Homo sapiens: one gene and its partners. The protein of the gene in region 3 interacts with the protein of the main gene of each other region in a pairwise test. Each region holds a gene or a part of one and is shown on either strand. Other genes may lie near its edges.

What was found.
Region 1: the proteins of FAM163A (region 3) and UBE2K interact in binary tests that used the Homo sapiens proteins (3 or more experiments, as listed by UniProt).
Region 2: the proteins of FAM163A (region 3) and RWDD2B interact in binary tests that used the Homo sapiens proteins (3 or more experiments, as listed by UniProt).

The regions. Positions count from the first base shown.
Region 1 is NC_000004.12:39,777,277-39,784,119, forward strand, and holds the end of UBE2K (ubiquitin-conjugating enzyme E2 K), read left to right. Parts: intron 1-405; coding exon 406-534; intron 535-1,083; coding exon 1,084-1,158; 3' UTR 1,159-5,516; downstream 5,517-6,843. UniProt on the Homo sapiens protein: Accepts ubiquitin from the E1 complex and catalyzes its covalent attachment to other proteins. In vitro, in the presence or in the absence of BRCA1-BARD1 E3 ubiquitin-protein ligase complex, catalyzes the synthesis of 'Lys-48'-linked polyubiquitin chains.
Region 2 is NC_000021.9:29,003,057-29,010,208, reverse strand, and holds the end of RWDD2B (RWD domain-containing protein 2B), read left to right. Parts: intron 1-516; exon of another isoform or gene 517-614; intron 615-1,587; coding exon 1,588-1,814; intron 1,815-1,901; coding exon 1,902-1,969; intron 1,970-2,085; coding exon 2,086-2,448; intron 2,449-3,557; coding exon 3,558-3,792; 3' UTR 3,793-5,825; downstream 5,826-7,152.
Region 3 is NC_000001.11:179,808,141-179,816,826, forward strand, and holds the end of FAM163A (protein FAM163A), read left to right. Parts: intron 1-1,184; exon of another isoform or gene 1,185-1,306; intron 1,307-1,541; exon of another isoform or gene 1,542-1,793; intron 1,794-3,969; 5' UTR 3,970-3,991; intron 3,992-4,635; exon of another isoform or gene 4,636-4,935; 5' UTR 4,936-4,957; coding exon 4,958-5,050; intron 5,051-5,638; coding exon 5,639-6,049; 3' UTR 6,050-8,058; downstream 8,059-8,686.

The sequences.
Region 1 (6,843 bases), on a different chromosome or scaffold from region 3:
CAAAAGCTGGTTACATCGTAAAAAATTATTCTAATGTCCACATATTTTTATAAGCTAGTAATCTGTGTTCAGTTGTATAATGTTTGCTGCTTTCCAGTGTTTGGAACATCTCTTAATACCTCACTTAACCTAATTTTAGTCTTGCTAGTTATATTTGTTGAATTTGGAGATTAAAGTAGATTAATGTTACTTGTCTTTATTATTGTCAACACAAATTGTGAGTCGAAGCTTCAGGTTAAGTGGTCTTTTCTCGAGTGACATAGGTTGTCTATAATGCAAAGTGAATCACATTTTAAATGTAGATTTGTTTTATTTGGAAAAGTAGGATTGTAGGCGATTAAGAGCTGAAATATATCAAATATTATAACTGTAATGTCATGTCAATCAATTTTTCCCCCCATATAGTACAAACAAAATCCCGAAATGTTCAAACAGACAGCTCGACTTTGGGCACATGTGTATGCTGGAGCACCAGTTTCTAGTCCAGAATACACCAAAAAAATAGAAAACCTATGTGCTATGGGCTTTGATAGGGTAAGTACATAAGGGCATGTTGATTTTGATATATTGATTGATTTTAAATTATTGCAAATTCTTGGCTGACAAAAGTGGTTTAGAAAATAAGAGAAATTCGCAGCCTGGGCAACATGGCGAAACCCATCTCTACAAAAATTAGCTGGACATGGTAGTGAGTGCCTGTAATTCCAGCTACTCTGAAGGCTGAGGTGAGAGAATCCCTTGGGCCCAGGAGGTCGAGGCTGCAGTGAGCGATAGTCATGCCACTGCACTCCAGCCTTGGTGATAGAGCAAGACCCTGTCTCAAAAAAAAAAAAAAAAAAAAAAAAAAGGAAAATAAGAGAAAATCTAGTTTTGGTAAACATATTTTCTGTTTTCAAAGTCAGTGATTTTTTTATTTTTACTAATTACTGTCATTGATTTTAGAAGCTTTCCATGCACTGCAAATGTAAATCAACTTACAGAAAAGAAACAAGGTGTTAATTCCCAGTATAAAGAGTGAATGATTCAGTATTGTTTAAATGTTTCCTTGAGATTTAATTTCCTGTCCCCTTTTCTTCTCTACAGAATGCAGTAATAGTGGCCTTGTCTTCAAAATCATGGGATGTAGAGACTGCAACAGAATTGCTTCTGAGTAACTGAGGCATAGAGAGCTGCTGATATAGTCAAGCTTGCCTCTTCTTGAGGAGCACCAACATCTGTTATTTTTAGGATTCTGCATAGATTTCTTTTAAACTGGCATTCTTGCCTAATGATGTTATCTAGGCACCATTGGAGACTGAAAAAAAAAAATCCCTGCTCTGTAAATAAAGCTAATTAAACGTCTGTGTAAATTTAAAAAGGGGAAATACTTTAATTTTTTTTCTTAATAGTGTAAAAATTCCCTGAGCTAAGCTAAAACCATGGAAGAAACATGCTACTTTAGTGTTTAGCAGTGTACCAAGACTAGCAAGAGTTTGCTTCAGGATTTTGTTGAATAATTAAGATAATATTTTGAGTGTGTCAGGGCCATTCAAATTGTTGGTGTTGCATCACAGCTACCTTAACTGTTTTTAACATGGATCCTCTGTGCCTGTGAATTTACTTGCATGCTTGTACTTGACTTCTTAGGATGGGTAGCTGAAAAGACCACCATTTTAAGCATTTGAGAATTCTTAAATATGAAATTTATTCAGAATTGAAGATGGTGACCTATTCAGAGCCTTTTTGTCCTTGTCAACAGACTGGGACAGTGTCTGATTCCCCCTTCACCCCCCCCACCCCCGCCTTGCCACACACAGCTAATATTCTAATGGTAAATTTCTCTGTATCAGGTGGGGAAATGTGCTGAAGGACAGTATGTATCCCTTGCTTCATTTTTAGGTCGTAGGTTTGGAATGTCTTGTCCCAGTTCTTCAAACACTCTTAAATTTTTCTTAAGTAATGTAAAAATGGAACTGCCAATTTTATTTCTCTTGCAAAAATAGTAAATACTTGATGTTACATTATTCCCAGGTTTAATGAAAGAACCCAACTTAGTTTTTCAGTGAATTTGACACCTATTTTTTAGTGATGAAATTTTTCTTTGAGAACTGGCAAGGATGCAGTCAGCTGTTTGCAGTTTTTAGCCTGATTTTGGGGTCTATAGAGATTGCTTTATTGGATACTTCAAGTCATTCTTGCTTGCACTTCCCCTATTGACACATGAAAGCTGTGTTGGTGTTTTATTGTACATACTTCAGATGCACATAGGAATAGAAGTGTGTTATAAATCTAGCTTTCTTTATGATGTTTCTGATAATACGAGAATTGAAAACTTTACCTTCTCTTGTACATAGTCAGACTATTTGTATTAAATTTACATTTCATTCTAAGTTCAAAAGTTTGAAAATTATTAGTTTTGCAAGATCACACACTAATGTAACCATTTTATGAAGGTTGAAGTGGATTTATGCAGGCAGTTCTATATATAGAAATACAATTCTTTTTAAATTTTTAGGACCAATACAAAATAACAAAAATGTAATGGAATCAGACTGAATTAAAGTAAGGCTGTATATTGAAAGTCATATTATAAAAGGTTTGCTTTCTTTAAGTGTTATTTATCTTAAATTATAATCGTTAAATGTTTGGAAGATAATTTTTGAATCATAACGTCAGCATAACTTCATTTGACTTCTCAATAATCTTGATACTAGAAGCAATAAAAGAACCATTATTAAATATATTGTAATGTTAAAGATGTGAAGGTTCTTCCAAAAATTTGTAAGGCTTTCCTAATTAACAGTAAACTCTTATAGCTGATATTATTACATACTAAACACAAGTTGCTGTTTTTTCCCCATATGTTTGCTTACGCATGTCTTTATACAATCACCTCTTTTTATTGCTGTAGTTTATTTTCTAAAGATGCCAAAGGAAACAAGATTTTTCTTTATTTATTTTAAATACCTGAAACCTCGTACTTTATATTTTGAAGTAAGGTGGGATTGTGTGAAAATGTGGATGGTTTTTCTCCAGTGTTGGTTAGAACTACTTTTTTTAAGTGGAGGGCAACTTGGTAGTATTAGTAGAATTTGGGTTTAAAAATATCAGACACATCTACCCAGTTTATTTTTTGCCTGTATTATCAGGGTATATTTAATTGTCCTGTGGTTAAACAAAGGTGAGAGAGCTCAGAGGTTTCTAAAGGTCAAGCATTTTACATATATACATACATACATGCTCTTGGAGGCAGCTATATCCTGCTTTGATTTTTATGCACATGAGCCCTATAGGGTTATATACTCATCTAACTACACTTCAGCATCCCCAGTGCCCAAGAAATTGGAAAGTACAATATTTGGTTTGAGACATTCTTCATAAAAGATTCTTTATTATAAAAATTTACCTCATTTACATTTAATGTGATGATCTTTTTTTTCCTTTCTGGTATATTTCCCACTGTACTGTTTGGTTTTTGTTATTCTCTTGTCTGTGGGTAGATTTAGTTACCCAAACATAGAAACTAAAGCAATTGCTTTTTTCCTCTGGTCTTAAATATGTTTGGACAAAAAGACACTAAAAGGTCAGGCCTAGGGGAAAAGTACCCTGGTGGAAATTATTTTTGTAATTCTTAATATTTTTGAGTTGGCTCCGTTTGTCAGTTTTAAAAGCCTCAAAAATTATGTTAAAAAAAAAATCCAGTGAAATCCCATTTAGGGCAGGCCGATTTGTTAGAAGTCACTGATGCTCCAGTAGGCTTTTGTTATAATCAGGCCTGTTTCCTGAGTATGTGCCTCTTTTAAAAGAAGAAATAATTAGCTGTATAGTATTTCAGTACTGATGAATGAATGAATGAATGAATGGCAGTTAGTGGACCCAAATAAGTATTCAGTGGTATATAAATATTTGAGGAACTAGGTACTGAATTAGGTGCTCTGAGTTGGCACCCCGAAATGTTTGGAATCACGACTATGATTTACTTAAACACGTAACACATTCAAGGATATATAAATGGAGTCTAAGTATTTTGCTTTTGAAGAGAATAATCTATGAAATGGAAGACTTGATTTTTTTTTTCATTTTTTAGAAGTAATACACATTTATGATTGTTGGCACATAAAACTATGCAAAATAATTCTTTTTAAGTATCTGTAAGAAAGAATTGGCAGTTTAAACGGATTTTGCTTATTTATGCACTACAGAATGCAGCATACTGTATTACTGTTGAGGCTGCTTAATAAGTTTACCAATGTGAAAAGCAGATCTTGGGTATAAGTGTATGCCTGATTTGAGCTTTTAAAACTGTGCAGTAGGTGTATGGTAATGTTTTACAATCCTATGTAGCAAAATAGGAAATTATGAATTTTTGTTGTTATTGTTTTAAAGATTTAAGATGGATTGGGGTAGGGAACAGCTGGAGCCAGGTATACCTTCTAGTATGTAGAGGGAAACAATGTTTAGATAGGAAAAAGGAAGCCGTCTGTTTACAGTTAACTTTATTTCATGGACTTCTACAAAATGTTGTATTAATCACTTTTTCTAGTTCAAGGAATTTCAATTCCAGGGTACAAACCATTGATTTAAAAATTACGTTTCCATTCTTTTTAGTATCAGTTTAAAGTAAATGCTTACCATCAGCCAGTTGCTGTCACTGGGAAGAAGGCAACTTGAAGTATTTACTGATAAAATAGCCTTTATTCCCAAGTGTGACTTTTCTTCAGTGTCTACATATTATGTCACACGTTCTATTTGCACTGCTGCAATATAGATCAAAGATCTTGTGGCATAGGGGTAGGGGAGTGTTAGTATCTCCCTTGTCCCATTTGTTCTGTTACTGCTTCATTGGACTGATACACCCTCATGAACTTGCAATCACCTAAATGGAAGTCTTGAATGTGTCACCTTTTGCTTGGTTATTTCAACCATGCTGCTATATATAATCAGGTGTGGCACAGTTTGTCAGTTTGATTATAGGTGTGAGTGGATAGAAATCATTACACTGTGCTGTTAACGATCCTTGTCTGCTTGCTGTTACCTACTTTTTACAGGCATCATAATAAAAGCTAGACTATTTCTTTGGGGGGAAAGAGACTTATTTAATGTAATTTAAAAAACTTTTCCAATAGAAAATGAAATATTATTGAAAATAATATCTATTTTTTAGCTTTCAGCAATTGATGGTGCTTTGTTGTGGTGTCTGCTGGAAGTCTACTGCCATTATAGGGAACCTTGCTTGTTAGCTTCTCTAGATCTCTATTCTAAACAATCTGTTAGTGATGATAAATTCTGTAGGAGGGTCTATTCTGAGCCGTTAACTTCCTGTAAGGGGAAAATGGGTGGGTTACCAGAAATACCATTGAAGCAGGGTGGGCTGTGGGGTGGAAGGTTGGGGTATTTGTCTTGAGAATTAAAAACTACGAAACACTTTTGTACACAACTGATTTTTTAAAAAATAAACACATTTTTAAAGATGTTGAATTTTTCCCCCCTTATTGGGAATTCTTAAAAATAAATGCATGCATGTTTTCCCCTGAAAATGGTTTATATCTTATTTCTGGGTGCTCATCTGTGGACAAGCAATTAAGTCTTACTCTAAATAAGAACCAGGCAGATATTTCTCCTTCACAAATTTCATAGTGATTGACATATAAATGCAGTAAGTTGTATCAGATCTTTGAATTTAAAAACATTGAAATTTAGTTCTAATTAAATTTACTAAAAGAACATATTTGCTTAGGTTCTAATCCAAAATTTAGAGTAATTAAGAGTTAGTTAAGTAATACTTTGTATTCTGTTTCCATATATGCTTTCTGGAAAGTTGCTCGGTACTGTCAAAAAGACTGAATTGTTTCAGAAAGTCCAGGGTTTAATCCCAGCTTTTACTCAAGAGCAGAGAGCCTGGACTTTTCTGAGCCTCAGTTTCCTCATCTAGGTAAGATATTTGCCCAGTACTTCGTAGCGTGTTGGTGAAGATCAAATTAAATGATTGATGTAGCTATAAAACTACTTAATTGTATAGACGTTAATATAATTCTAACACTAAATTTTGGCTAAACTATGAAAGTATTACTCTGTTCCTAATCTGAAACCACCAAGAGGATACCTTGTTTGAAAATTGTGGTTTGGCAAAGTAGCTATTTTTTGTTATGTCTGACTATTTCAAAGGTCCATTGATTGGTTATTATCTGTAGATTGACCCTTCCTCCATAAATGCTGATAATTAGAAGACACTTTGTCAGGGTTTGTACAAATTATTTTACATGGCAAAACTGATCGTGTCTTTATGGTATTTGTAACCAACTCACAGCAGGCCTATAGGTTTCTTTGCCAAGAAATGGAATTCCTCCTGACCTGGAATATCAATATAAAGTGTTCTTTTTGTGGAGTAAGACTGGGTCTTTAGGTACTAAAAATCCAGGATAACAAATAGAATTCAAAGCTGGGTGTGGTGGCTCACACCTGTAATCCCAACACCTGGGGGGGCAGAGGCAGGTGGATCATCTGAGGTCAGGAGTTAGAGACAAGCCTGGCCAACATGGTTAAACCCCATCTCTACTAAAACCAAATATTAGCTGGGCATGGTGGTGCGCGCCTGTAATCCCAGCTACTCTGGAAGCTGAGGCAGGAAAATTGCATGAAAACCTGGGGAGCGGAGATTGCAGTGAGCCAAAATTGCACCACTGCACTCCAGCCTGGGCAACAGAGTGAGAATTTAAGGAGCTCTCATGCCCTGGCAATAGATACTCAAATTTAAAGAGCATCAGACATTTGGCACTTGTTTTGTTTTGATCATCAGTGAATTAGTTTTCCAGTGAATAATATGAAAATTATTAAGGATAACTTTCTTAAGGTATCAGATAAAGT
Region 2 (7,152 bases), on a different chromosome or scaffold from region 3:
CAAAATTTAAAATGTACATGTTGATACAACAATCCACCTCTGTAAGTTTATTATTGAATACACAGTATTCAGTTTACCATACTATATATATAAAAAGACCTTGCATTATAGGATTGTTCATATTAGTAAAAATGTGGAAACAACCCAAGTGTCCATCAATAGGTAAAGAATTAAATAAGTTATGGCATATCTACATGATTCAGTATAACAGCCGACAGTTACAAAGAATGAGGTAGATCACTATATGTTGACAGTGAATAGATCTACAAAATATATTTGGTGGGGAGGGAGATAGGAAATAGGAGGAAAAAGTATATATTATCCCCTTTGGATTTAAATATGTATACTGTATATATCTCACATTGTACATATTTATACATTATACCAGCATTTTTCACATATATATATGTATAATGCTTAAGATGTTTTAATGTTAACAGGGGTGACTTAAGCTACAGGACAATTAACACTTATTTTCTCTTTATGTTCCTCTGCTTCTTAAAAACTAATAAATAGGCCGGGCGCAGTGGCTCACACCTGTAATCCCAGCACTTTGGGAGGCCGAGGCGGGCGGATCATGAGGTCAGGAGATCAAGACCATCCTGGCTAACACGGTGAAACCCCATCTCTACTAAAAATACAAAAAATTAACCGGGTGTGGTGTTGGGCGCCTGTAGTCCCAGCTATTTGGGAGGCTGAGGCAGGAGAATGGCGTGAACGCGCCGAGGTGGAGCTTGCAGTGAACCAAGATTGCGCCACTGCACTACAGCCTGGGTGACAGAGCGAGACTCCGTTTCAAAAAAAAAAAAAAAAAAACTAATAAATGCCATGCACAGTGGCTCATACCTGTAATGCTAGCACTTTGGGAGGCCAAGGCAGGAGGATTGCTTGAGCCCAGGAGGTCAAGACCAGTCTGGACAACATAGCAAGACCTTGTTTCTACAAATAAAAAATGAAGCCGGGCGTGGCAGTGCATACCTGTGGTCCTAGCTACTCAGAAGTCTGAGGTGGGAGGATTGCTTGGGCGTGGGAGGTTGAGGTTGCAGTGAGCGGGGATCATGCCACTGCACTCCAGCTGTGGTGACAGAGCTAGACCCTGTCTCAAAAAAACCTAATAAACATTAATATTTACTTAAAAAGAAGAAATTGACCATCCACGTAACCAAACTCTCTGACTGACTTTGTTCATTCTAGGTTTCCAGTGTAACCAGTCATATCCTCTCTTCTGGCTACATTATTGATACAGCTTTTTGACTACATAATTGGTTTACTTTGATGAAATTGCCCATTATGGTAGCTCAAGTTGTCCACTCAACTATCTAGACACAGAAGAATGTGGTGTCTACTTACTATTAAGAGTTTTTTTGTGTTTGTTTTTTTATAGATGGTCTCAGTATGTTGCTCAGGCTGGTCTTAGCATAGGACTTAGCATATTATATCTGAAAGTAGAGTAATAGGGAAAGAGACTAATTAAATTGTACAATTTATGAAGAAACCAAGTACAATTTTAGTAAGTACACATGTTGATGTATTCATTTCTTCCAAGATTGCATATGTAAATTGTCTCTCTTATCTTTACCTCCTTAGAAACTTACACATGTCCAAAAATGATTGAGATGGAGCAGGCGGAGGCCCAGCTTGCTGAGTTAGACCTGCTAGCCAGTATGTTCCCTGGTGAGAATGAGCTCATAGTGAATGACCAGCTGGCTGTAGCAGAACTGAAAGATTGTATTGAAAAGAAGACAATGGAGGGGCGATCTTCAAAAGTCTACTTTACTATCAATATGAACCTGGATGTATCTGACGAAAAAATGGTAATTCAGTTTTGCTTTTAGAGGGATTGAAACATGTTGAGACTTAAAACATTGGTTAGTGCACTTTTTCTTCTTCTCTTTAATCAGGCGATGTTTTCTCTGGCCTGTATTCTTCCCTTTAAATACCCGGCAGTTCTGCCTGAAATTACTGTCAGGTACGTTACAGAAGCTCTGGCCAACTTTGGAGGTCAAAATTAATCTGAGAATAAAAGCAATTCTCGAATTTGTTTTCTGTTCCAAGACAATATTTTTCTTGTATCTTTTCTATTAGATCAGTATTATTGAGTAGATCCCAGCAGACTCAGCTGAACACAGATCTGACTGCATTCCTGCAAAAACATTGTCATGGAGATGTTTGTATACTGAATGCCACAGAGTGGGTTAGAGAACACGCCTCTGGCTATGTCAGCAGAGATACTTCATCTTCACCCACCACAGGAAGCACAGTCCAGTCAGTTGACCTCATCTTCACGAGACTCTGGATCTACAGCCATCATATCTATAACAAATGCAAAAGAAAGAATATTCTAGAGTGGGCAAAGGAGCTTTCCCTGTCTGGGTTTAGCATGCCTGGAAAACCTGGTGTTGTTTGTGTGGAAGGCCCACAAAGTGCCTGTGAAGAATTCTGGTCAAGGTTTGCTTTTACATATGTATATGAAGTCATGTCAATAATGTTAATACTAAACAAGATACAGTCATGTGCTGCCTAGTGACGTTTTGGTCAACAGTGGACAACACATAAAACAGTGATGCCATAAGATTATAATGGAGCACATATAGAAACCTGATATATGGCACTTGATCTTCCCACTATTGAATATCAGAATGATATTCAGTAATGGTGCTGGGACATTTGGTTTTCTATATGAAAAAATATAAATGCAAAAAAAGTACCATCTAGGTTTGTGTAAGTACACTCTGTCGTGGTGGTACAACAACAAAATAGCCTAAAGATACATTTCTCAGAATGTATCCCCGTTGTTAAGCAACACATGACTATTAGAGATGTGGAGATAAGTATGTCCCAGGGGTTGTGTCTTTATGGGGATTCAATCTCAAGTTGATGGATATGGCAGAAATCACATGTAGTCAGCATTTTCCCCGTCACCTGACAAGTGCATGTAGGAGACATTCTGTAAATATGCACTGAATGAATTGAGCTCCTGCCCCAGACACTATGACCCCATCCACTTCCATGGATCTGGTCCTTCCCTCATTTTAGTGATGCTGCAAACTGTATACCCTGTGAAGTAAGGAGCTTTCTAGAAGCATTAGAATTGCCACTAGTCTCATTTCTCTACTGATATACTAAATGAATTTCTGAGAAGGTCCATAGTAGTTTGGGATTCAGTAATTCCTACATTTCTAAACTACTGATACATGGCTGTAGTAAGGGCAACAAATGAGTTCAGAGATGAGATTATGACCAGAATCATATTTGATTAAAATAAATCCCTGTGAGATAAAAGTAGACTTCTTGGACGGGGTGTGTATGACTCACACCTGTAATCCCAGCACTTTGGGAGGCTGAGGCCAGAGTATCACTTGCAGCCAGGAGTTTGAAACCAGCATGAGCAACATAGCAAGACCTGCCTCTACTAAATCAATAAGTAAAAGTTATAAACATTTTAAAAAGTAGACTACTTCTAGGAAAAGGCATTGATAAATCTGTTTTATAACTTCTGTTTTAAATGCTCTAGAATATACATTTTGAAAATGTTTACTTTGGAAATTTCTTTTCAGACTCAGAAAATTAAACTGGAAGAGAATTTTAATTCGCCATCGAGAAGACATTCCTTTTGATGGTACAAATGATGAAACGGAAAGACAAAGGAAATTTTCCATTTTTGAAGAAAAAGTGTTCAGTGTTAATGGAGCCAGGGGAAACCACATGGACTTTGGTCAGCTCTATCAGTTCTTAAACACCAAAGGATGTGGGGATGTTTTCCAGATGTTCTTTGGTGTAGAAGGACAATGACATCAAGAGTAGTTGAAAGTATCTTGCCACTGTTGGCCTTTTGATTTTTTTTTCCCACTTTTTCTTGAAAGATTAAGTAATTTTATTTTAGTTCCATTCTAGAATGTTGGGGAGTGGGGCACAAGAAAAAATAGTATAGCTGAAATGCATCTGTTAAAAATGTCATGATTGAAAGCAGAACTGAGTTTCAAATTACAACCTTAAAATTGTTGTTAGATATTTCTTCACATATCAGCTGCCCATTTTGAAAAAGAAATTATCCATAAAGGTAATGTTGGTGCTCCAATTTGCCAGCCATTCCCAACCCCCTTCTCCCTTACCTGCCTTCACTAAAGAACCCAGAAAAGCTAATTGCTCCCCTTTCAGCCTCTGTTGCAACTAACAACTCTCAGTGGCCTCAGGACACAGCTTTGGCCTTGGGAATTCTGGGAAAACTTTTACTTCCTGATTAAAGATACATATGCAGCTAGGCCACCTCCTCCCCCCCTTACTGCCATAAACACCAAAGTGATGACTGGAGCTGGAGGAGTTATTTGAACCACGACGAAGGGCCAAGAGAACCACGAAGATGCCAGTTGCCACATTGTTGAGCTGCTGACCCAACACCAGCCATTGCCTGTCTCTAAACATCTTATGAAATAAAACCAGTTTTGTTTAATTTCTAGGCTTTTTTTTTAAATAGACGGAGTCTTGCTCTGTCGCCCGGGCTAGAGTGCAATGGTGCAACCTCCGCTCACTGCAACCTCCGCCTCCCAAGTTCAAGCGATTCTCCTGCCTCAGCCTCCCAAGTAGCTGAGATTACAGGCGCCCGCCACCATGCCTGGCTAATTTTTGTGTTTTTTAGTAGAGACAGGGTGTCACCATTTTGGCCAGGCTGGTCTTGAACTCCTGACCTCAGGTGATCCTCCCACCTCGGCTTCCCAATGTGCTTGGATTACAGGCATAAGCCACCGTGCCTGGCCAATATCTAGGCTTTTTACTAGCAGTTGAAAGCTAGTTTGTCAAATAGAGTTTTTCAGAGCTTTAGTTTTGCATTTACCCCAGCCTTTTGATACACAAATAGGTGAAGTTTTTCTGAAGTGGAGTTTGCAGTTCCCCACTTTTTGTATACTCACGCTCTGCCCCTGCTCCTGGGCTTGCCTCAGACAAGGCTGAGGCATTAGTAGGGCTTAAACTTTTTTAACAAGCCTCAACAATTCATCAAATTAGTAATTTAGAAAATTTGTTTGGCAAATTGTATTCTGACATTTTTTGTTCTGGAAATGGCTTTCTGTACATTTATTTTTGCCAAATTGACCTAGCATTAAATAAACACACCACCCAGTTTTTGAGGACCTCCATAAACCAGTTAGTTCCAAAAGCATTTATTATTTGCTAATTTGCTAGCATGCAGGTTGATGCAGGTTGATACCAGGTGTTGGATATTTCTTGACCAGTCAGACTTGGTTAAGGAATGGAGTTGGGGTGAGAGACAATGCATTAAGTTAGTAAAAGGTTGTAGGCAAACTATGCTTATCACAAAATGAATCAGTTAGTAAAAGACAGCATATATTATGTAATACAATGTAGAAATCTGAAGGAATAAAATGGAAGAAGGCAATGTGGATAGATCTTAAATATAAAGGTGGTTAAACATAAATGAGAATCAGAATGGTATTTAAAGCACAGTGCTTGTATTGGACCTAAATCTTATGTACGTCCCCAGATTTCCTCCCTGCTGCCCTGTCCTATCGCCCCGTCAGTTGCCCTGGAAATCCCAGTTCCTCTGCTGCCACCAGACAGCCAGGTGGACCAGTTGTGTGTCTAGTTTCTGATTCCTCCAGCGACTAACAGATTTGTATGAAATACCCTACAGAGAATGGAATCTGACATCCCTACCACCAAAGGGGGCAGATGATGCATATATTACTTTAAGCAGCTAAAGTGGCAGCTAAACTGCTAAAACTTTTTCAGTCTCTCTACATTATATTAAAAACCAGATTGCTATGTATAATATGCAGATCTCAAATGTCACATAAACACATAGAATGCAACAGAGTAGTTTTATAAGTTTTCTTTCCTGGGACATCTGTCAAATTTAGACATTTATGATTAAGTCATATAAGCCAGGGAAGTACAGATTTTCCAATCTTGTGATGACCAACTTCCTTTGAGAATGGATAAATGTAGTTAAATGTTAGAAATGTTAGAGTATAAACAATATAGCTTTCTTAGGTTTCTTTCTCTTTTTTTTTTTCTGGAGACAGAATCTGGATCTGTCACCCAGGCTGGAGTGCAGTGGCGCAATCTTGGCTTACTGCAACCTCCGCCGCCTGGGGTTCAAGCGATTCTCCCACCTCATTCTCCCGAGTAGCTGAGATTACAGGTGCGTGCTACCACGCTCGCTATTTTTTGTATTTTTAGTAGAGACAGGGATTCACTATGTTGGCCAGGCTGGTCTTGAAGTCTTGACCTCAGATGATCCACCTGCCTCAGCCTCTCAAAGTGCTGGAATTACAGGCGTGAGCCACCGCGCCCTGCCCAGTTTCTGCCAATGATTATATACTTGATATATAAACATCCTTAAATATAAAATGTTCCGTATGATTGCACATAAAAAATTTGTTCAGCAACGACAATTTGTCAACATATTAATGTAATAAATAGTTTGAACTGGAATCACCTATAAAAAATGATAAATCCTGGAAAGAAACCGTTTCAAGTCAAATTATGTTTAAAAGTTACATTTTTCTAAAGAAAACAAGTATAGGCAGGGAATACTGGCCACATGCCTTGTTTTTTTTTTTTTTTTTTTTTTTTTTTTTTTTTTTTAAGACGAAGTCTCGCTCTGTAGCCCAGGCTGGAGTGCGAGTGCGGTGGCGTGATCTAGGCTCACCACAACCTCTGCCTCCCAGGTTCAAGCAATTCTTCCTCAGCCTCCGGAGTAGCTGGGATTGCAGGCGCGCGCCACTGCACCCCGCTAATTTTTGTATTTTTAGTAGAGAGGTAGGTTTCACCATGTTAGCCTGGCTGCTCTTGAACTCCCGACCTCAGGTAATCCGCCCGCCTCGGCCTCCCAAAGTGCTATTTATTTATTTATTATTATTATTATTAAGAAAGATGCGTATCAGGGAAACTAAAAAAGACAGACTATGGGTGAAATTCCATAAAAGCGGCAATGCAGCCAAGGTTTAAAGGTATTTAAGGGCAGACGCAGAAATTACGTTCCCGCCCCACCCCACCCCCCCAGCGATAATTAGAACTACTTGGGAAAACTAAGTCCATAAAAACTCAGCAAAGGGGCACCACGAGCCTTCCACTTTAACACAATCTGCCAATCTGAAGCCATCAGATCCGGGAAGGGATGTAGGTCGTAATGTC
Region 3 (8,686 bases):
GGCAGCTGGTGTGTTAGAAACTCCACAGCACTGGCCCGTGGGCCCTGACTCAGGCACTTGTTATCCTATGACTTTAGGCAAATGACTTAATGGTCTCGCTTCTCCTCCAGCATTGCTGGGGCTTTTGTAAGATTCAAGAATGTATTCGTTATCTTTTGCTGCGTCACAAACTACCACAAACTCAGCAGCTTAAAACAACACACAGTGATTATCAGTTTCTGTGGGTCAGGAGTCCAGACATGGCTGGTTGACCCGCTGCCTCAAGGTCTCAGCTGGGGTTGTCAATTCATCCCAAAGGTCAACTGGAGAAGGATCCACTTCATCTCTCATGTATGTGGCTGTTCAGTTCCTTTTGGGAGGCTGGATTGAGGGCCTCAGTCCCCAGCCAGGAATTGGCCAGAGGCCACCCTAGGTTTCTTCCCCAACATGGCAACTTTCAGTATCAAAACTATCAGAGAGAATGGCTAGCAAGAGAATAGTCTGAATCTTATATAATCTATTCACAGAAGTGACATCCCATTACCCATGCTGTTTTCGATTGGTTAAAGCAAGTTACAGGCCACACCCATACTCAGGGGAGGGGAGTACACAAGGGCATGACTGCCAGGAGGCAGTGACCACTTGGGCCATCTCAGAGCCTGCCTGCCATAAGAGAGCATAAATGGAGCACTTTGTAAACTGTAGGCTGCTGTTTGGGTGTAAGGAGATATTGCCAGCATTTGCATCTAGTTGCAAAGAGACAATGAGCCCTCCTGAAATCATAGAGAGCCACTGAATGTGGGAATTTAAATGCTAAACTGTACCATTAGTACAGAAATTAGCCAGCCGTGGTAGCACATGCCTTTGGTCCCAGCTACTTGGGAGGCTGAGGTGGGAGGATCGCTTGGGCCCTGGAAGTTGAGGCTGCAGTGAGCCGAGATTGCAGCACTACACTCCATCCTGGGTGACAGAGCAAGACCCTGTCTCAAAAAAAAATTTTTTTTTTCCATTAGTACTGGGGCTTCAGGGAAACTGGTTGAGAGCTGATTAGTTCATCTCATACCCTGTACATGTCCCTTCCTGGCTTATGATTTTAAGGCCAGACCTAAACAGCCACAACATGTCGAGGCCCCCCAAAACCATGTTTGTGGGGTCTTTTCTAGTTCACAAAGAGCTCTCACACCCATCCCCCTCTTTCCTCACAGTCACACTTGAGAATTCAGAGGAAGAGAGGCAAGCCTTGGTTACGATTCCTCGCAATCCTACTGGCAAGGGAGACGTGAGAGGAATGTGAGAGCTGAGCGTTTTGTTCATCTTTGCTTTACAAGTGAGAAAGAAGGTCATTTTCCAATATGGGGTAGCTGCTCAGTGGCACAGGTGATCCTCGAACCTGGGCCTTGAGAACCCCAGCTCTGCCCACACTGCCATGCCCCCGATGTCCAGGCCATTGCCGTGCACAGCCTGCGTGGTCCTGAAAGAGGGGTGGTCCAGCACAGGGGCAGGGAGGAGGGAGGGCACTGTTCTTATACAGCTTCTCCATAATTCCCTGTCTCCTAAAATAGGCTTGGCACATCCTGGAACACTAGTCCAAGCCTGTCTGTGGGGTGGATCACTGCTGCCTCCCCAGCTTCAGGTCACTCCTAGACCTCTCTGTCCATAAGCAGCCCTCAGCGACGAATATGCAGGGAAGTGGTGAGGGGATGAAGTGGTGCTGTAGTGAAAGTGCCTAAGCCTTCCCCACGCTGAGATTCATCTGACCCCGCCTCCAGATGCCCCAAGAAACCCCTGAAGCATGGCCCGCCATGCACCTGGGCAAAATCAAAGTGGTCTCGAACAGTGACGCTCAAGTCTGCAGATGGGATTGAGCTGAGAGGTACAGCTTGCTGCCCCCTGGTGGTCTGTCAGAGTCATAACTGCCAGGGCTGTGACAAGCTAAACAGTGAGCTTTTATTAAGTACCCGGTATGTGTCAGGCATGGTGTATAAGGCTGCAGGGGATAGGAGACCGTGTAAGACACAACCCTTGATCCCAGAGGACTTATAATATAGTGGAGGAGTCAAGATGTTCCCACATGAAAAGTTGACTCTCATCCCACCAAGCGGGATTTGAAGAGCAAACCATGAAGGGCATTGCAATAGGAGCCCAGAAGTGAGAGAGCTTCAGGGCTGGGGCAGTCAGGGGAGGCTTCTCAGAACCTTGAAGGATGGGCAGGATTTAAACAGATGGAAAAAGAAAGGCCACACGCTCCCCTGTCAAAAGCCCCGTCAGGAAACCCCCAGGGTCTCCAAGAGAGTTCATCTGGATTCCTTGACCGGGTTGCAGCCTCTGCAGCTGCATGCCTGCCCTGGCCTGTCCCAGCCTCGCCAGATCCCTCGCAGTTCCTGGAACTGTTTTCTCACACCCCTGGACTGTTCATTCTGCCCTCCCCACCTTGTCTACTGGATAAGCTTTCACTCAGCTTTTAGGATTCAGCTCAATACAACACCTGCAGTGGAGCATCTCCCCTCAGTCAGTAGCTGCCCCACTCTAGGTTCCGCAACTCTAGTCTGCAATTCTGTGGCTGCGAGTCTCACACTGTATCCTAAGGTTTGCCCCGTATCTTTTCATCACTAGGCAATAAGCTGCTTAAGAACTGTAGGACTATGGCTCACACTTGTAATCCCAGCACTTTGGGAGGCCAAGGCGGGTGGATCACCCACCTTGGTGGGTGGTCAGGAGTTTGAGACCAGCCTGGCCAACATGGTGAAGCCCCGTTTCTACTGAAAATACAAAAATTAGCCCGGTGTGGGGTTGCACGTCTATAATCCCAGCTACTCGGGAGGCTGAGGCACGAGAATCACTGGAACCCAGCAGGCAGAGGTTGCAGTGAGCCAAGATTGTGCCACTGCACTCCAGACTGAGGGACAGAGTGAGACTCTGTCTCCAAAAAAAAGAACAGTGGGACTGCATGATGGGGCAGTGGATCACGTAAGCGGAAGAAAGGGAGGTGAGGAGGGAAAGATAAATAGGGTAAGTGTGCAGGAACGTGGGGGATGGCAATGTCTTTGAAGCTGTCTCTAAAAGTTTATGGGCAGATAAATGTATCCTGCAGGCAATGTGGTGCATGAGAGTCACAGAAAGGCCCAGGGGTATGAAGGAAGGCTTAACAGCTGGTGGCAGGAAGGGTACTCAGAGACAAAACTGGGAAGGTTTGTTAGGAAACCATTGTGCCAGTGCAGCTTGAGAGGTGATGAGTCTTCACTGGTGTGGGGGACAGAAGACTGGGGTAGCCAAAGAAGAATTTGAGGAGTTTAAATTCTGGGCAGCTAGGGGAACGTCCCATGGGCTTGTCAAACTCTAATGTGCAACCTACTCAATTGGGACCTTGTTAAAATGCAAACTCTGACTCATTAGGCCTGTGGGGGGCCTGAGATGCTATCTTTCTAATGGTGCTCCCAGGTGATGCCCACGCTGCTGGTCCACAGAGCGGGAGTGGATTTGGAGCCACACTGCCGGGCAGGTGCAGCCCTCTAAGAGGACAGTGGTGGACATGTGATATCTTTGGGTAAAGAGATAAAGGCACCCCCTTTTACCTGGTGAACACACCAGGGTGCATAGCTTTGTGAGCACAGTGCAGTTGGGTTCTAGCCCCCACTTGCCCTTTGAGTAATAAACAATTTGCAAAGCCCTTCGGGACAGCTCTGGTGGAGCCACCAACAGAGCCTCCAGACAGGTCGGAGGAGAGGAGTCCATTTGGAGAGCAGGGTGGTGACTTTAACCTGTCATAACTGAGTTTGAGATGACCACTGGGACATCCACTGAAATGTCTATCTACTAGCAGCTGGAGACCCAGCTGGAGACCTGGACTTGGGGTCTGTGGGCTCACTGATGATATGCCACACAGCGAAGAAAGCAAAATGAGGGTTGTCTGGGAATCATCTAACCCTTCTGGCCTTTTTCAGTGAGTAACTCTCTTCTTCCAACATCTCTGTCCTTTCTGTTGTCTTGCAGGTCGCCGTTCCCTTTACTGAATGTAAGTGATCGTAGTCATTTTTCCATCTCCAAGATGCCAACTTCCCATTCCCCACCCTCCTGCCCCTTGGTCCCAATGCACCTGGGAGGCTCAGAAATCCCCATTCACTGACCTAAAAGGAGAATCTGTCTGAAGCCATGACAGCCTCATGCCCAGAGCTTGCCTCTGTCCTGTTCATTCAGCCTCAGAAGCCAGGACCAGTCTCCCCAGCTTGGCCACAGCCTTCCAGGGCCCAGAATGCCACACACCACTCCCTCTGGGCTCGCCTTGCCTTTGTTTTCCAGGAGGGTTTGAAGGAGAAGAGAGATACCCCCAAAAGAAGTGCTGGTTTGAGCCAGAGAAGAGCCACCTGGTGTTTTCGAGATGTGGCCCTTTCCCCGCCAGCCCGGGCCAAAGGCTCAGGGACCACTGGGGTGTGTGCCAAGAGGGCGGGGATCAAGAGCACAGCCTTTGGGATGAACGGGCTGGGTGGAATCGCAGCCAAATTATTCGCAGCCCCGTTCAGCATGCGTGCGGTAGGGATAGCTAATAACTGCCCCGAAGGGTTATCGCGAGGATGTAGTAAGATGCGTGGGGGTGCTTAGCATGATGCCACACAGGGAGGAGCCCCGCAATCAGCGGCAGCTGTTCCTCTGTGTCTGCAGCCACGCAGAAGCGGGAGCTAAGAAGGGTGTGACGGGAGAGGAAAGGCGAGAAGAGCACCAAAGGGGAAAGATCGTGAGAACTTTTTGAAACTGGGTACTCAACTTCGCCCACTTAGGCTGGCCCAGTCTGGAGCCACAGTCGTCCTCAGCCTTCAGGAAACCCCTGGGGCCTGGCCCTCCCGGCACCTGCTGCTCTCAGGCCCCCTGCCCCAGCCTCGGGGCAGTTCCAGGAAGACTCCCCCCGGCCCAGCCCAGGGCTGCAGCCACAGCTGGTCCTCAGCCCTCCGCACATCTTTGCAGAGTTTGATGGGGCGCCGGGCGGATGACAGCGGGAACGGTTGTGATCACTGGCGGAATCCTAGCTACGGTGATCCTCCTCTGCATCATTGCCGTCCTGTGCTACTGCAGGCTCCAGGTCAGTCCCCGGGACCCGTAGCCAGAGGCTGCCAGGCCACCAGCAAACCTCTTTTTCATTATGGGGGCAGAAACTGGAGGCCGACTTCAGGGCCCACAGAGCCCAAAGCTATGGAATGTAGCAGGCGTAAGTCAAGGAGGATGGGAGTTGGGGCTGGTCGGAAGGGAGCTAAGTGCCCCCCAGCCTGCCCACTCAGAGCACACAGAAAGTGTGCTGGAAAGATACGGGGTCATTGGGTTGTGTCTCCTGCACCTCTGAGATTTCAGGAGCATGGGAAGAGCACCATTCTGGGGAGGCTCTGAAAGCTGCCGCCAGCAGCTCCAGCCCTGTCCTCAATATGATGTGTGTGTCCCTGCCCCGCTCAACTACAGCCTGGAGTTACTGCGAGGAGTGGTGGGAGGGGAAAAGGAAAGCAGTACTGGCCTTGCAAAGCTGGGATTAGAAACTTGTGGAGCAGGCCCCTGGGGTTCAGTGCCTGGCACTAGGTTCTCCATGGAGCAGGGGACAGGGGCACCTGTGCACGCTCAAAAATGCATGGGGCGGGGGGAGCATTCACCCTCTCAGGCATCCCTCTGCCCTTCCGCACAGTATTACTGCTGCAAGAAGAGCGGAACCGAGGTTGCAGACGAGGAGGAGGAGCGGGAGCACGACCTTCCCACGCATCCCAGAGGCCCCACCTGCAATGCCTGCAGCTCCCAAGCCCTGGACGGCAGAGGCAGCCTGGCGCCTCTCACCAGCGAGCCCTGCAGCCAGCCCTGTGGGGTGGCCGCGAGCCACTGCACTACCTGCTCCCCATACAGCTCCCCCTTTTACATACGGACGGCTGACATGGTGCCCAATGGGGGTGGAGGCGAGAGGCTCTCCTTTGCTCCCACATACTACAAAGAGGGGGGACCCCCATCCCTCAAATTGGCAGCACCCCAGAGTTACCCGGTGACCTGGCCAGGCTCTGGGCGTGAGGCCTTCACCAATCCAAGGGCTATTAGTACAGACGTGTAAATCCTTCCACCCCGACCCGCACACACACCCACACTGCTGCCCTGGCGGGGGCCATGGGGGTGATGAATGACCCTCCAACAGCCCCACATGGGTTGTTTCTGTTTCTTTGGCTTTTCTCGCTCCGCAGTGGAGGGTTTACTAGGATTTAAGCTTTTGAGTGCATTGAGAACCAAGACAGGGCCTGGCTCCAACTCTGTGGGCCAGAGGTGGGGGACTGCTAGGTCGAGTCTGCAGCTTCGCCAGTTTCTTGGTTGGGACACTCCTCTGGCAGCCCCAGCACCACCACAACCCCTTGCAGTGTGCCCCAGTCCCCTGGATTCGCTGGACTGCAAAAAGGAGCACCAGGGAAAGCTCAGCAAAGGCTCAGGAGGCCTCCCGGGTCCTCGGGAGATGAAGCATCCGTGCCTAGGAAAAGGGGACAGAGGGCAAGGAGAGAAGTGAGAGCTACAATTCCAGCATTGGAGAAGCGAGGGGCGGGGCGTCAACGGCACTGCTTCAGGACGCGCTTGCTGAAACGACTCCAACAGCTAGTTCACAGCCCAGCTTTGTACGTTGGTTACCATAGCTACTGCTGTCACTGTAGCTGCTCCCGTAGGGTCGTTGATTCCTGAACGTATCACATCTCACCTGCCCCCTTCCTCGTGGGACGTGTCAAGTTGACTTTAAAGCCTAAGGTGGCTTGTGGGGACTGCACCAGAAAGTGTCTAACCTTGTGTTCCCCGAAATCCTTTCTCTGACTTAGGAACCAGCGCCCCCTGCTGGAGAAGTTTTTTCATTTTGTTAGCCGACTTCTGGTAGCTTAGCAAAGAGACCAGCTGACTGTCTCTCGGCCCAGCCCACCACGCCGAGTAGCTTGTGTGGATGCAGTCCTGTGAGGGTGTGCATAACCGTTCCCAGGTGTACGCACGCGCGCGCGCGCGCACAGACACACACACACACACACACACACACACACACACACAGTAACCACGGGTAGGCACCAGGGGCTTTGTACATTCAGGAGCTGCAGAGAGGAAAGGTCTCCCATGTACCAGAGAAGGAAAAGTCTGATCCCGAAACAGCTTGAACGAAAGGTGGTTAACACGTGACCAATCCCCATGGCAGACAGCGGGCTGGTGAACAGGAAGAGCACAGAATCTCTGTGGGGCGATGCTGCAGCGGCTGAAACCACGTCAAGTCCCCCAGAGCCCGGCATTCTATGTAAGCATCCACCTGTGACGCCGTGGAGCAGGATCTTCATTCATCTCACCAGAGCAACAGCCCAGTCCTGAGGATGGGAGGGACGTGACTTAGCCTTGGGATTCCACGCTCGCCGCCCTCCCTTGGCCGCCCTACTCCCCAGTTTCCTGGCGATGAGCCATTTATTGTGTCTCACACCAGCCTCATTTCCAACTCCGACTTCCTACTTAGAATGTGGCAGTGGCTTTGTGAGTGAGAATCCTGATGAGTTTTCCAGTGGCCTCTGCAGAAGCTGGCCCCCTTCTAAGGGCATAGCTAACCCCCTTCCCACTCCTGAGTCACTGAATTCGAGGAGGGTGGGGCAGGGAAAGGGCTGGCCCCCCTGCTGAAATCTTGATTCTGCATTTGAGGAAGGTCAGGGTGCCGCTGGGGGAGCAGGGAGCGGGGAGGGAGGAAGAGGGGAATGCACATCTTTTGCGCCACTATTAAGGCACCTGTCACCTTACATCTCAATCTGGAATCAAAGTGCCCTGGGTTGAGAAGCAGACCTGGGCTCTGGTCACACTTTGGTCACTCATTAGCTCTAGGACCAGTCACTAATCTCTGAGACTCCATTTTCTCCAGGGAAACGAGGCTTGCCCAGATAGACTAACAACCCTTTAGTGCTCCAAGAAGTGAGAATTTCCGAAAAAGATCTGCCGGCCCAGAGCACTCCCTCTTGCCCTAATCCTGGCAGGGTCTGGATGTATTTACCCAACTCTGATCTTGCGTGCAGGGATGCTTGCTGATGGATGAAAGACCACAATAAAACAAGATTAGCAGCAAAACAATTTTAATTGTCAGTGAAAAGCAAACATGTTTGTCAGACTCTCCTGTGGAGTCATTTCAAATGGTAACTCTTCTCTTGTACCAGGAAGCAGCTGTAGGTGGGGTAATGGGATCTGTCTCCTGGTGCAGAGGGGCAGCTTATGGCGGCAGCAGCTTCAACAAGCCCGTCCCACGGCCAGCCCTAACTGGGCCAAGTGCAAGCTCCTGATGAGCTGCTGGGCCTGGCAGCGTTCCCCACTTCCTAGTGCCTTGCTCCCCTGGAATTCCACAGCCAATCAACCACAGCAGCCGTGTCCTCCTTGCCAGAAATAACATCATTCGTACGTCCTGCCTTTGTAAAAATCAAGACCCAGTTAACCATCACCCACTTCTTGCCCCTGATTGATGGGGTCCCTGAGTACAAGCGTCCTGTGCAATCCCCTCCCTCCTACCGCTTTCCTAGCTAAGCCCTGCTAGCCCCACAAATCAGAATCTGGGTTTGGGGTGCTGGAGAGATGGTGGGCCCCAGCTCTTCCCCACATAGCCCACGCTGCTCAGGGCACGGTCTCCAACCAGGCTCGAGATTGCCTGCCTGCCCGCTGCAGCCGCAGGGCCCCACCCTGTGGAAAAGGAAGCTTCCCCCACTCAACT